Linked DNA regions of Homo sapiens. The protein of the gene in region 1 interacts with the protein of each later gene in a pairwise test. Each region holds a gene or a part of one and is shown on either strand. Other genes may lie near its edges.

The links.
Region 2: the proteins of HAPLN2 (region 1) and ZNF438 interact in binary tests that used the Homo sapiens proteins (3 or more experiments, as listed by UniProt).

What each region holds. Positions count from the first base shown.
Region 1 is NC_000001.11:156,615,399-156,622,414, reverse strand, and holds the start of HAPLN2 (hyaluronan and proteoglycan link protein 2 precursor), read right to left. Parts: upstream 3,001-7,016; 5' UTR 2,908-3,000; coding exon of another isoform or gene 2,880-2,907; intron 2,447-2,879; coding exon of another isoform or gene 2,257-2,446; intron 536-2,256; exon of another isoform or gene 487-535; intron 1-486. UniProt on the Homo sapiens protein: Mediates a firm binding of versican V2 to hyaluronic acid. May play a pivotal role in the formation of the hyaluronan-associated matrix in the central nervous system (CNS) which facilitates neuronal conduction and general structural stabilization.
Region 2 is NC_000010.11:30,846,861-30,853,897, reverse strand, and holds part of ZNF438 (zinc finger protein 438), read left to right. Parts: intron 1-3,530; coding exon 3,531-5,367; intron 5,368-7,037. UniProt on the Homo sapiens protein: Isoform 1 acts as a transcriptional repressor.

The sequences.
Region 1 (7,016 bases):
TGGTATGATCATGGCTTACTGCAGCCTCGCCCTCCCAGACTCAAGCCATCCTCCCATCTCAGCCTCCTGAGTAGCTGGGACTACAGGCGCACACCATGAAACCCCACTAAATTTTTTTCTTTTCTATTTTTTGTAGAGATGGAGTTTCAGAATGTTGCCCAGGCTGGTCTTGAACTCCTGGGCTCAAGTAATCTGTCTTGGCCTCCCAGAATGCTGGGATTACAAGCATGAGCCACCACACCCAGCCAGGACTTTTTTTGTCTTACAAGTACTTTTATTAGCACCTAAACTTAACAGTGTGAATTTGAACATAATATGTATCCACATATAGATACAGAAATTATGAAGTTAAAAAATATAAAATTATAAAGTTATTTTTAAAAACTACTTCAAATGCAATTATCTATTTCAGTACTGTAGTTATTCCCCCCTTTAAATTTGTTTTGTGTTTTTTTTTTCTAGATGGAGTCTCGCTCTGTTGCCCAGGCTGGAGCACAGTGGCACGATCTTGGATCACTGCAAGCTCCACCTCCCGGTAAAAAAAATTTTTTAATCAGATACAGGGTCTTACTAGGTTGCCCAATTCCTGGGCTCAAGCAATGCTCCCACTTCAGCCTCCCAAGTTTGAGCCACTGCACCCAGCTCCTCCTTTATTGTAACATTCTTTTTTTTTTTTTTTTTCTTTTTTCTGAGAGGGAGTTTCACTCTTGTTGCCCAGGCTGGAGTGCAATGGCACCATCTCAGCTCACTGCAACCTCCACCTCCCGGGTTCAAGCGATTCTCCTGAGTAGCTGGGACTACAGGCACCCACCACCACTCCGGGCTAATTTTTGTATTTGTAGTAGAAACAGGGTTTCACCATGTTGGCCAGGCTGGTCTTGAGAACTCCGGACCTCAGGTGATCCACGCTCCTTGGCCTCCCAAAATGCTGAGATTACAGGTGTGAGCCATCGCCTCCAGCACCTATTGTATCATTCTTATCCCTCTGACCTTAAAAAAAAAAATTGGACTGGGCCAGGCACAGTGGGTCACACCTGTAATCCCAACACTGGAAGGCTGAGGCGGGTGGATTACTTGAGATTAGGAGTTCAAGACCAGCCTGGCCATCATGGTGAAACCCTGTCTCTACTAAAAATACGAAATTCAGCTGGGCGTGGTGGCATGCACCTGTAATTCCAGCTACTCGGGAGGCTGAGGCAGGAGAATCGCTTGAAACCAGGAGGTGGAGGCTGCAGTGAGCCAAGATTGTGCCACTGCACTCCAGCCTAGGGGATAGAGCAAGACCTTGTCTCAAAAAAAAAAAAAAAAAAAATGAAGACTTCTTGACTTCACTGCATTCGTTTTCCAAATCTGGCTACTCTATTTCCTAATTGCATGACTATGCATAAGTTAATTATCATGCACAAGTTCCTTAACCTCTCTCTGCCTCAGTGTCCTCATCAGTGAAATGTGGGGAATAATAGCACACCTACCTCACTGAGTAGTTGTGAGGAATAAATAAATTGATATACGCAAAATGCTTGAAATAGTGTCTGGAATGTAATAAGTGCTGTCTATGTGTTAGCTGTTATCTCCAGTTCCCAGCATAGTTTCTGGTACATAGTAGGTGCTAAATAAGTGTGTATGGTTTAATGAACTTACATTAAGGATTCATGGGAAGATGGGATGGGGAATGGGGAGATGGAGGAAGCACCCTGAGAAGTTGCCAGAAATCTAAAGAATGGAGCTCCATCTTTCTGCAAATGAGGACCAAAGACCAGTTTGCAGTAGGAGAAACGGAGGTTATGCATAGAAAACTTCTCAGTGGTTAAAGGTGAAAGTATCTGGGATGCGAACATGAGCAAGAGAACCACTTCTTTATAGGAGAACTTGATAAGTAAGAATGATCGTGAGGACTGAGATTGACTGAGACCAACAATAATGATAGCTCAAATGAACACGTTTAAAATTGAATGTGCCTGACACTGCTCTAAGCACTTTACATGTATATTTTTATATTTACTCCTCCCAGCAATCCTGAGGCAGAAACAATTATAAATCCTACTGTACACATGCTGAAACCAAGGTGCACCTATTTTAGGAAATGAGGTCACACAGCTAGTAAGAGGAAGGGTTTGCTGGGATTTGAATACAGATCTGACAGTGAGGCTCAAGCGCTTAATCACTAATCTATATTTCTGCATTTCAAAACAGTGCACACACATGCTCTTCATACCTCTTACAGAAAATGAGAGTAGTCAGCAGCCCATTGCCTACCTGTTAGAAGCTGGTCTCTTCACAGAGACGGAGGGAGCAGTGCTTAGCAGCTTTTTGTCTTGCTTGAGGAAGAGGTTCTGGATGAAGGTTTGCCAGGCTCCTGGGAGTTCCAAGCACCTTAAAACCCTGGAACTTGAGCCCCTGTTCAACACAGTTGCTCCTTTTGCACCTTTGAGGAAAAGCTTCTGTCCTGTGCTCAAAGAAGAAGCCAAGGTGCCAAGAACGACCCCCACCCCCATCAGTCCACTAAGCCATGTTAAGAGACCTGTGTCCAGCCCTGTGACTATATCTGTGGAAATCACTATTCCGGGACCAGGGGAAGATGCTGGGGTTGGGATGAGGGCTGGGAACCCATGAAGGGGAGTGGAATAAAGGGAGCAACCCAGGAATGATGACCTGGAAGAGTGCAGAAAGTGAGGTGCTTCATTTTTTCTCGATGCCTTTGAACCAGAGAGGTGTAGATTGATCGGTGGATATGAAGGTGTTGGACTGATGGGGATGGGGATGAACTCTAAATGTGGCTCAAAGATCCATAACTGCCAAGCTCGAGCTGCCTCCCTTTCCATATGCGCCTCATCTAAGCAGCATCCCCATCTCCCCTCTCCCCACAACAGAGTACTCACCTCTGCCCTCTGGTGCCTGAGTGCGCATTGCCTTTGCAAACAGACTTTCAGGTGGGAACTATCCAGGACTTCCAGCTGCTTCAAGAAACCGGACCTCTTCTGTACAACCCCCTGTCTGTCTGTCTGTCTGTCCTTTCCTTCTCAGTCCCCACCCCATCGGAAGCACAATTTCCCATTGTCTCTGTCTTTTCCCCTATTGTTGAATAACAGGGCCCCTTTCTTTATTCTGTGGGTAATGGCAATGAAATGTCAACAGCTGGGGATGTGGGATGCAGGACCGGCTGGCACATACCACCGGAAAAGGGCCTGGGTGGGGGGCGGGCTCAGAACAGGAATTGACATCCCCAAGAAGAAGAGAATAGGGTGAGGGGCAGAGAACGGATGGTGAAAAGGTTGAAATGGAATCTCTCTCAACACTCCAAATTACAGGGCTCTAAAGAGATTTTGTCTGAGGCCAGGGGAAAGGCTGGGCTCCATGAGGGCAGAGGGAGTGGCTAGCATTGCAATAGGAGAGATGGAGATTAGACAGCAAGGAGGATTTTTCTGTCCCTGGGGAGGAACATGAGAATTTCTGAGGACAGAAGGACTTTGGAAACCTCTCCAAAAGAGAAGTTATCTTATTGGTTCCCTAATATTCTACCTCTTCCCTCAGCACAAATAGATAACCTTTTTAAAGTACTCAGAAGGGGATCCTTAATCTTCCTGGATGGAAATTCACTTTCTCTCAAGTCTTTTTTTTTTTTTTTTTTTTTTTTTTGAGACGGAGTCTCGCACTGTCGCTCAGGCTGGAGTGCGGTGGCACGATCTTGGCTCACTGCAAGCTCCGACTCCCGGGTTCATGCCATTCTTCTGCCTCAGCCTCCCAAGTAGCTGGGACTACAGGCACCCACCACCACACCCGGCTAATTTTTTGTATTTTAAGTAGAGACGGGGTTTCCCCGTGTTAACCAGGATGGTCTCGATCTCCTGACCTGGTGATCCGCCTGCCTCGGCCTCCCAAAGTGCTGGGATTACAGGCGTGAGCCACCGTGCCCGGCCTTTTTAAAATTTTTTTTTTAAGACAAGGCCTCTATCTGTTGCCCAAGTAGGAGTGCAGTGGCCCAATCATAGCTCACTGCAGCCTCGAACACCTGGGCTCAAGAGATCTTCCCCCTTAGCCTCGAAATTATCTAGGACTACAGGCGCGCACCACCACACCCGTCTAATTAACTTTTTTTTTTTTTTTTTTTTGAGACAGAGTCTGGCTCTGTCACCCAGGCTGGAGTGCAGTGGCGCAGTCTCGGCTCACTGCTACCTCTGCTCTGCCTCCCGGGTTCAAGCCATCCTCCTCTTTCCTCAGCCTTCAGAGCATCTGGGACTACAGACGTGCGCCACCACGCCAAGATAATTTTTGTATTTTTTTGTAGAGATGAGGTTTCATCATGTTGCCCAGGCTGGTCTTGAACTCCTGGGCTCAAGCAATCCGCCCACCTCAGCCTCCCCAAATGCTGGGATTACAGGCGTGAGCCACCATGCTGGGCCTAATTAAGTCCATTTTAAAACCTTTCCATTGAGGTATAATTTACATACAAAAAAGTCATAGAAATTATGTGTACAGCTAAATGAATTTTTACGTGTGTACATATATTGTACACAGGTAAAAACCCACCAGATCAAGACATAGAACATTTCCAACAATGCCGAATAGGCCCAATTGTTTTTGTTTTCTATTAATGCAGAGGGAGGACTCCCTCCACCTGCCCCTGTAAACAGCCATGTAGAAATGTTTTGAGCTTTAAGTTCCATTTTAGCCTTATTTTCTCTCTGCTGTAGCCCCATGGAAGTAGCTTTGCATTATTAAAACCATATAATTTCATGTTCTGTGAGTTAAAAAAAAAAAAAAAAAGAGGCTGGGCACTATGGCTCACACCTATAATCCCAACACTTTGGGAGGCCGAAGTGGGCGGATCACCTGAGGTCAGGAGTTCGAGACCAGCCTGGCCAACATGGTGAAACTCTGTCTCTACTAAAAATACAAAAATTAGCCAGGCATGGTGGTGTGCGCCTGTAATCCCAGCTCCTCGGGAGGCTTGAGGTGGGAAAATCGCTTGAACCCAGGAGGAGGTTGCAGTGAGCTGAGATCGTGCCACTGCACTCCAGCCTGGGCAACAGAGTGAGACACCATCTCAAAAAAAAAAAAAAAAAGAACCATACCCTTTCAGAACTGGAGACCTCAGGATGCTGAACATTTACTAGAGGAGGAGATGGAGAGGAAGGTGGCTTGCCCCAAATCACGCACAATACAGTCATTGAGTCAAGCCTAGAAGTTTCTGCTTTTTCCACTAATCCTCTTCTGCCTCTCTCCTTGGCTGTCCAATTCAGACAAGCTCCAGGTTTTCACTTGGGCCATATCTAATAATAGGAAGCTCACCTTGAATATACTTTTCTTTCTTTCTTTCTTTCTTTTGAAACAGGGTCTCACTCTGTCACCCAGGCTGGAGTGCAGTGATACGATCATGGCGCACTGCAGCCTCGACCTCCCAGGTTCAAACGATCCCTCCCACCTCAGCCTCTCAGGTAGCTTGGTGCACAGATGTGCACCACCACACCCAGCTAACTTTTAAAAATTATTTGTAAAGACAGGGTCTCCCTATCTTGCCCAGGCTGCTCTCAAACCCCTGGACTCAAGTGACCCTCCCTCCTTGGCCTCCCAAAGTGCTGGGATTACAAGCATGAGCCACTGCACCCGGCCGACTATACTCTTGAGAGATCTGATTGACTATCTTTTCCCTATCTACTCCATCCCTGTTCTTAAGCGCTTCCCTCCTCCTCCCACGACTGTCTCTCTCATGAGAGAAGACAAATAGCCCCCTGTCTCCTTGGACAGGACACCCTGATCCAGTGCATCTGATTGGCTTCCTGCCAACTCAAACAAACAGCCTCCGGCAGAGGGAGAAGTAGATATAAATGGCTCCACAGCCTGGCCACTGCATCCATTCCCAGGCTCATTTCTCCACAAATTTACTGTTCCTTTCTCCACAAATCACTTCTGAACTGTGGCTTGGAAGTCTCTGGTATGTAAATCCATAAAAGGCTGAGTTTGATGGGGAGGAAAGCCTAGAACTATTTGACAGATGCAAAAACAACCCAGTGAGGACAGAATGAGAAAGGAACAGACAGGAATACATATAATGAATAGCCAAACTGTGTTTAGTTTACTCAAGGTCACTTTCATTCTCAGTTTCCCCCCAGACGCTAAAATGGGAGTGGGGTGAGATGGCTGAGACAAGCTGGGGTCTCCTCACTGACCCAGCATCTCTGAGGAAGGGCTTTGTCAGTCCTATACCTACTGACCAGAGTGTGGTGGAGTGATTCCAGACAAGCACGGAGTCCCGACATCTCCTTCTCTAACACCCACACTCGCTTCCACCATCCAAGCAGGTTCAGCTGGCCAGTTTTCCTGACCCCTGGTGATGGCAAGCATGGCCCCAGTTTATGACTAGGATTGTTGTGTGAATGACTGGAAGGGCTGGCAAGATGACACTTTAGGGAGGACTTTAAAAGGCATGGCTCTCTTTGGTCTTTCTCTTTCCAACATTTTTTTAATAATTTTTTTTAACAGATGGGATCTCTAAAAATTTTTTTAAGAGATAGGATCTCTAAAAATTTTTTTAAGGGATGGGATTTGGCTGGGCACGGTGGCTAATGCCTGTAATCCCAGCACTTTGGGAGGCCGAGGTGGGCGGATCACAAGGTCATGAGTTCAAGACCAGCCTGGCCAGCATGGTGAAACCCCATCTCTACTAAAAATACAAAAAGTTAGCCGGGCATGATGATGCGTGCCTGTAGTCCCAGCTACTTGGGAGGCTGAGGCAGGAGAATCACTTGAACCCAGGAGGCGGAGGTCGCAGTGAGCTGAGATCGCACCACTGCACTCCAGCCTGGGCGATAGACCAAGATTCTGTCTGAAAAAAAAAAAAAAAAGAGAGAGAGAGAGAGTGAGATGGGATCTGTCTCTGTGACTCAGAACTGCAGTACAGTGGTGTGATCATTGCTCACTGCAGCCTCAAACTTCTGGGTTCAAGTGATTCTCCTGCCTCATCCTCCTGATTAGCTGGGAGTACAGGCGGGCACCCCCATGCCTGGCTTTCCAGCATT
Region 2 (7,037 bases), on another chromosome or scaffold:
TCAGCCTCCCAAGTAGCTGGGATTACAGGCACTTGCCACCACACTCGGCTAATTTTTGTATTTTTAGTAGAAACGGTTTCACCATGTTGACCAGGCTGGTCTCAAACTCCTGACCTCAAGTGATCTGCCTGCCTTAGCCTCCCAAAGTGCTGGGATTACAGGCATATGCCACCATGCCTGGCCATAAATGGAGCATATGTTCTAGAGAAAATGAAACAGGAAGAGGGAGCAGGGAGTTCACAATGGGATATAGTTTTAAATAAGGTCATCAGAGGAGATGCTCGTTGAGAAGAAGCCATTTGTGCAAAACCTTGAAGGAAACGATGCAGCAAGTACTGGGGATTTACTGAGGGAAGAGTGTCTTGGGTGGGCGGGAGTAGCCAATGCTCCTCCCAGCCAGGAGCCTCCTCTCAGGAGGTGCATGCCCAGAACAGCAAAGAGGCCACCATGGCTGGAGTGGAGCAAGTAGAGGAAATATGTCAAAGAGGCTCCTGAGAACCTTTTTAAGCATGAGGCCTTTTAAGCCATTGCAGGGATTTTGGCTTTACTCTGAGATGAAGAGCCATTGGACAGATTTGAGATGAGGAAGTCATAGATCTTGTGCTATGATGTGTTATTGTCACATATTCTTTCAAGAGGGTGAATTACTAAGCCTTTGTTCTAGCTCATCTTGCGGTAAATATTTTCTGCCCAGTTAGGAGGAAGAACTAGTGATAAATGACCCAATATTTTCTCTTCTCTTCCTTCCACACCCCAGATCTGTTGTGTAAATGCAAAGAACATTATTACTGTTAATGTAATTATTTATTAAGCCACATCTCTAAGTAACCAAAAGCCATCAATAATTTTAGGCTTTCTGCAAAGTCTCTCAATCCTGATTTAAAGTGTTTATTTATGACTTATTTTGGTACTTCTTCCAAAAAAAAAAAGATGAGAAGGTGAGGTTTAAAATGAAAAACATTTAAATTTAAAGGCTATGAAAATAAAACTTAAAAATTAAAATTATGTAGGAAGAAGTAGCAATCCATACAGATGACTATTGTCAAGTGATTTACCACTCAATTTACCCATAAGCGGAATTCACGGTAACCAAACTCAGAAGGAAAACAACAAATAACATAATTATCTTTGTCTGATTTTTCCAGACAATAGCACTCACTAGTCCTTGTACTTCTTACTCTCGTGCAGGCTATCCTGTGAACTTATGTTTCATAATGTCCTTTTTCTTTGCAAAACAATTACTTTCTAAAAATAAACTGGTCAATATAAATTTCACCTTATTTCTACTAGGTTGCTTGTTTATTTAGGCGGTGTCATTTCTGCTGAAAGAATCAACTTCCTGCTAAAATTGTTAATTCACTCACTGTAGGCATTAAAATCAAGGTTGACGGGCCGGGCGCGGTGGCTCATGCCTGTAATCCCAGCACTTTGGGAGGCCGAGGCGGGCAGATCACCTGAGGTCGGGAGTTCGAGACCAGCCTGACCAACATGGAGAAACCCTGTCTCTACTAAAAATACAAAATTAGCTGGGTGTGGTGGCACATGCCTGTAATCCCAGTTACTTGGGAGGTTGAGGCAGGAGAATCACTTGAACCCAGGAGGCAGAGGTTGCTGTGAGCCGAGATCGCACCATTGCACTCACCTAAGCAATAAGAGCAAAACTCCGTCTCAAAAAAAAAAAAGAAAAAAGAAAATCAAGGTTGATGTTACATTTTCTTTTCTTTTTTTTTTGAGACGGAGTCTCGCTCAGACTGTTGCCCAGGCTGGAGTATAGTGGTGCGATCTCGGCTCACTACAACCTCTGCCTCCAGGGTTCAAGTGATTCTCCTGCCTCAGCCTCGCCAGTAGCTGAGATTACAGGCATCTGCCACCATGCCTGGCTAATTTTTTTTTTGTATTTTTAGTAGAGACAGAGTTTCATCACGTGGCCAGGTTGGTTTCAAGCTCCTGACCTCAAGTGATCCGCCCATCTCAGCCTCCCAAAGTGCTAGGATTATAGACGTGAGCCCCCGTGCCCAGCTGATTTTACATTTTCAATTGTCTGTTTCACTAGATTGTCTGCTACCTACCTTGTATCCTCTAACAGATAGTGTTCAGTCCCCTACCCCCAACTCTAAAATCTAAAAAACTCTGAAAACAGAAGTTTATGAAAAGTTGTTACAAACTCATTCAGAAGCAAAAACTTGAACTGAAATAAAGACAATTTAAAAATCTTCATTTGTCCAACTTGCGAATATTTGCATGTTTTGCTACAGAAGTGGTAATAGGTTCAATTATGGGTGCCCTGCAGATTCCGCTGGGAGTTATGTAACATTTAGTACACGCATCTTACTACTTTTCCAAAATTTGAAAATATAAATTCCAAACCACATCTTCCTCCAAAAATTTCAGAAAAGGGATTGTGGACTTGGCAATAGCCAATCCTGGGATAATGATTGGAATAATGTAGGTGCCTAGTAAATGTGAATTGAAGTTTGATTAATATGAGATACTTAGAAATTAGAAACATTTCTGCAGCCAGGTCTTGTGACCTTGAGACCTCAGAGAATAAAATAGATAATTCAGTCTTTAGAAGCAGGACACCAAAATGTTTCCTTAATTGTTCTCTTAAGGTAGTAGTAATTGATCTTAGGTCAGGCTAATAAATCCAGAAAGAATGAAGTGTTACCCTATCAGTCAAAATTGTTCCTATTAGTATCCTAGAAGGTGCTTTTTATGCCATTCACATATTTTGCATGTTGTCTCTGTATCTGTACTTATCACTTTGTATCTTTCTGTTTTTTGTTCAACATTTTTTAAAGGTGTCACATCAGCTTTTTTAATACTGGTGATTTAATTGCAAAAGCACACATAAACAGTTTGAAAGGTGTGAGAAGAAATTCGTAAGTCACATGGGGAAACAGCAACAAAGCTAGCATTCAGTCTGGAATGCATCCACTGTGCAAAACAAATTCAACTGCCAGTGGGTCAAATGGTGTATCCTGAGATTGAGTGAAAAATGAGTTTGATACAAGAAGCGCTTGTTTTATACAAAGGATACAGTGGGAAATATCAAGATGAGATGAATATAGGCTGTACCCTCACAAAGCTGAAGCTTAATAGGGAAAGCAGAACATGTATATAAAATAATAAACTACATAGCAGAACATACCAGACATCATGTGAAGATGAGTGGGGATAGGTTAAATGGAGAGGATGGACTTGCAGAATACATGGATGAGAAGGACGGAATTTTCGCTGTCAAGCAGTGTTGACTAGTAGAGATACACATAAACACATAAATTATTATGGAAAATGGTAAATAACATAATAGGAGCTAAGGAACCATAGATAAGTATAGAAATCCTTGGGGAAGGTAGGCAGGAATTGATCTTCAAGCTGGTCTTGAGGGACACAAGATTTTGCCCAGAAGGCTTGGAGGTAGGTCAAGGAATCTGTTCTGGGCAGAGTAAATAAGATGCTTGTTGTTTGAAGTATCACTAACAGAACAGTTACATACAGTAACTCTTTATATTTTATTGTCATTGCAGGTGAATCAAACATCCCTTCTGGAACAATACAGAGTAGGAAAGGTTTGCAGAATAAGAGTCAGTTTAGGACCATTGCACCAAAAATTGTGCCCAAAGTCCTAACGTCCAGAATGCTGCCATGTCATTCACCATCACGCTCTGATCAGGTGAATCTGGGACCCTCCATCAACTCCAAGCTGCTGGGGATGTCCACCCAGAACTATGCCCTGATGCAGGTTGCTGGCCAGGAGGGGACATTTTCTCTTGTTGCTCTGCCACATGTTGCCTCAGCTCAGCCAATTCAGAAACCCAGAATGTCCCTACCTGAAAACCTGAAACTTCCTATTCCTAGATATCAACCCCCTAGAAATAGCAAAGCATCAAGAAAGAAACCCATCCTGATCTTTCCTAAGAGTGGCTGTAGCAAAGCTCCTGCCCAAACCCAAATGTGTCCTCAGATGTCCCCTTCCCCACCTCACCACCCTGAACTCCTGTACAAACCCAGTCCATTTGAGGAAGTACCATCACTAGAGCAAGCCCCAGCCAGCATTAGCACAGCTGCGCTGACCAATGGAAGTGACCATGGGGACTTGAGACCACCAGTGACCAACACCCATGGCAGTCTGAACCCTCCTGCTACCCCAGCATCATCCACACCAGAGGAGCCTGCCAAGCAGGACCTCACAGCTCTTTCAGGGAAAGCACACTTTGTAAGCAAGATAACATCTAGTAAACCTTCTGCTGTTGCCAGTGAAAAATTTAAAGAACAAGTTGATCTTGCAAAAACCATGACCAATTTATCACCAACCATTCTTGGCAATGCAGTTCAGTTGATCTCTTCAGTCCCCAAAGGGAAACTGCCAATCCCACCCTACTCAAGAATGAAGACAATGGAGGTTTACAAAATCAAATCAGATGCTAACATTGCAGGTTTTTCTTTACCAGGACCTAAGGCCGACTGTGATAAGATACCCTCCACCACAGAAGGCTTTAATGCAGCCACCAAGGTGGCAAGCAGGCTACCTGTTCCACAAGTGTCACAGCAGAGTGCCTGTGAAAGTGCCTTTTGTCCACCCACCAAACTTGATCTTAACCACAAAACAAAACTGAACAGTGGAGCAGCAAAGAGAAAAGGAAGAAAACGGAAGGTACCAGATGAAATTTTGGCATTTCAGGGAAAAAGGAGGAAATATATCATTAATAAGTGTAGAGATGGTAAAGAAAGAGTAAAAAATGATCCCCAAGAATTCAGAGACCAAAAGCTGGGGACCCTGAAAAAATACCGTAGCATTATGCCCAAACCTATCATGGTCATACCCACTTTGGCCTCCCTGGCTTCTCCAACTACACTACAGTCCCAGATGCTTGGGGGCCTAGGACAGGATGTTTTGTTAAATAATTCACTCACTCCTAAATATCTTGGCTGTAAGCAAGACAACAGCTCTTCCCCTAAGCCCAGCTCCGTGTTCAGAAATGGATTCTCTGGCATTAAGAAGCCTTGGCACAGATGTCACGTCTGCAACCACCACTTCCAGTTCAAACAGCACCTTCGAGACCACATGAATACACACACCAACAGACGCCCTTACAGTTGTCGGATTTGTCGCAAGTCCTATGTACGTCCTGGCAGCCTGAGCACACACATGAAACTTCATCATGGTGAGAACCGTCTGAAGAAACTCATGTGTTGTGAGTTTTGTGCAAAAGTGTTTGGCCACATCCGAGTCTATTTTGGCCATCTGAAAGAAGTGCATAGGGTTGTGATCAGCACTGAGCCTGCGCCCAGTGAACTGCAGCCAGGAGACATACCAAAGAACAGAGACATGAGTGTGCGAGGCATGGAGGGATCATTGGAGAGGTGAGTGCCAATGTAATGGAGACCTGGCAAGAGAGTCTGTTTTGATTTGGGGAAGAGGGGAAGATTTCATATTCAGAAAGGAGAGTTTATAAAACATCTCTAGGATTAAGATTTCATAAAGTAGCTATGTATACCTCCTAGATCTGTGAAGAATGATCTTGTTTCTCTCTGGTTTCTGATCATCCATACTTGGAATTACCCTAACCAATCTAGTAAAGTACTGTATATAGTTCCAGTGGTCTTTACAAGTAATTTCCCCCAAAATCACATCCACAGAATTTGCGTTATTTTAAACAGCATCATTTGCCCCAAAATGCGGCATGACCCATGGTTGGGGACTCAGAGTGGGTGGGTCTGTCATGTTGACCCTACCTTAAGGTGCCCAGACCCCACCCTCTTCATTTGCCCTGTTTTTCCCATCAGTTCGGGTTCACTCTTTCTGGTGTCATTCCTTTTTGCAAGCACTGCTTCCTGGTATTATTGCTATGGGATCCTTGGGGTGTCATTTCACCAGCCGGAAACCTCTGTGGCCAGTGGCGCCTTGGCCTGAGTTTTGCTCTGGCCCATTAGGCTCGTTCCACCCACTTGGAACCTAGCAGGCTGCACTCAGCTCATGCTACCGGCCTAGATCCCATGCCTGCCAAGGGCGAGCCAGGCACAGAGTGGTGAGGGATGTGTGAGTGAGCGTGGGGTCTGGCCACTGCGCATAGGCAGGCACGCCGGCTGCTGCTGCAGGCCAGGCAGCTCCAGGTGCCACCTCCTTGCAAGGCTGTGGCTGGACCAGGCACATCACAAGCAGCTTCCACGGTTGGCACCAGGAACATGATGTTGCCCAGAAGCTTGGAGACTAGGGAGTCACTGCCCTGGCTCAGGGGGCTCCCAGGACAGAGCTCCCCAAAGGGCCGCAGCTCTTCTCTTCACCTGCTGTGTGGCAAGCAAGAGGCGTGTTTCAGCCTGTTTGTGTTACAGCTCTCTTAGCCCCACCATTTGGCAGGTCTCAAGTTCTTGTCCTGCGTTCAGGAAGAATGAGGTACACAGAGAAGTAGAGGGTGAGCAAGATGAAGAGGAGCTTTATTGAGTGATAGAACAGCTCAGAGTTGAACTGCAGGGGGCAGTTCCTCTCTGCAGGCAGGTTTTCCCCGTCATCTCTTGTGCTCTCAGCAGAGAGGGTAGCTCCTCTCTGCCACTGGTCGTCCCATTGTCTCTTCAAGTCTGGCTAAGTCCGGGGCTTTTATGTGCCTCAGAGGAGAGGAAATGCGTGCAGTTGGTCCATGGGCAGTCATGGACAGACCCAGAAAAGCACCACAAGTTCCCACTCCAGTCCACATGACTGGCAACCTGGCCCCCAGGCTTCAGGGCTTCTCTGGCTTGAAGGTGGGGCTTCACCGGGGACCTCCCCTTTTCTGCCCAGGAGCTTCTTTGCTCCCTGCTTCTGTTTATGGCACCCAGGCTGTTCATGCTGAGGGGGCACCTGCAGGCTGGCACCGAGCTGTCCTGAGCACCCCTTCCTCAGCCTCCCTTCCATGCTTATTGGCACCCAAAGTCTGGAGCAGGCCAATGGGGTAGGAGGTGGGCATATCAGCACTGCCTCAAGCGTGTGCACACCCAACCAGGTTACAGCAGAGCCCAGGCTCAGCCCCAGCCTTGCTTTGAGATTGGAGCAGGTGCTG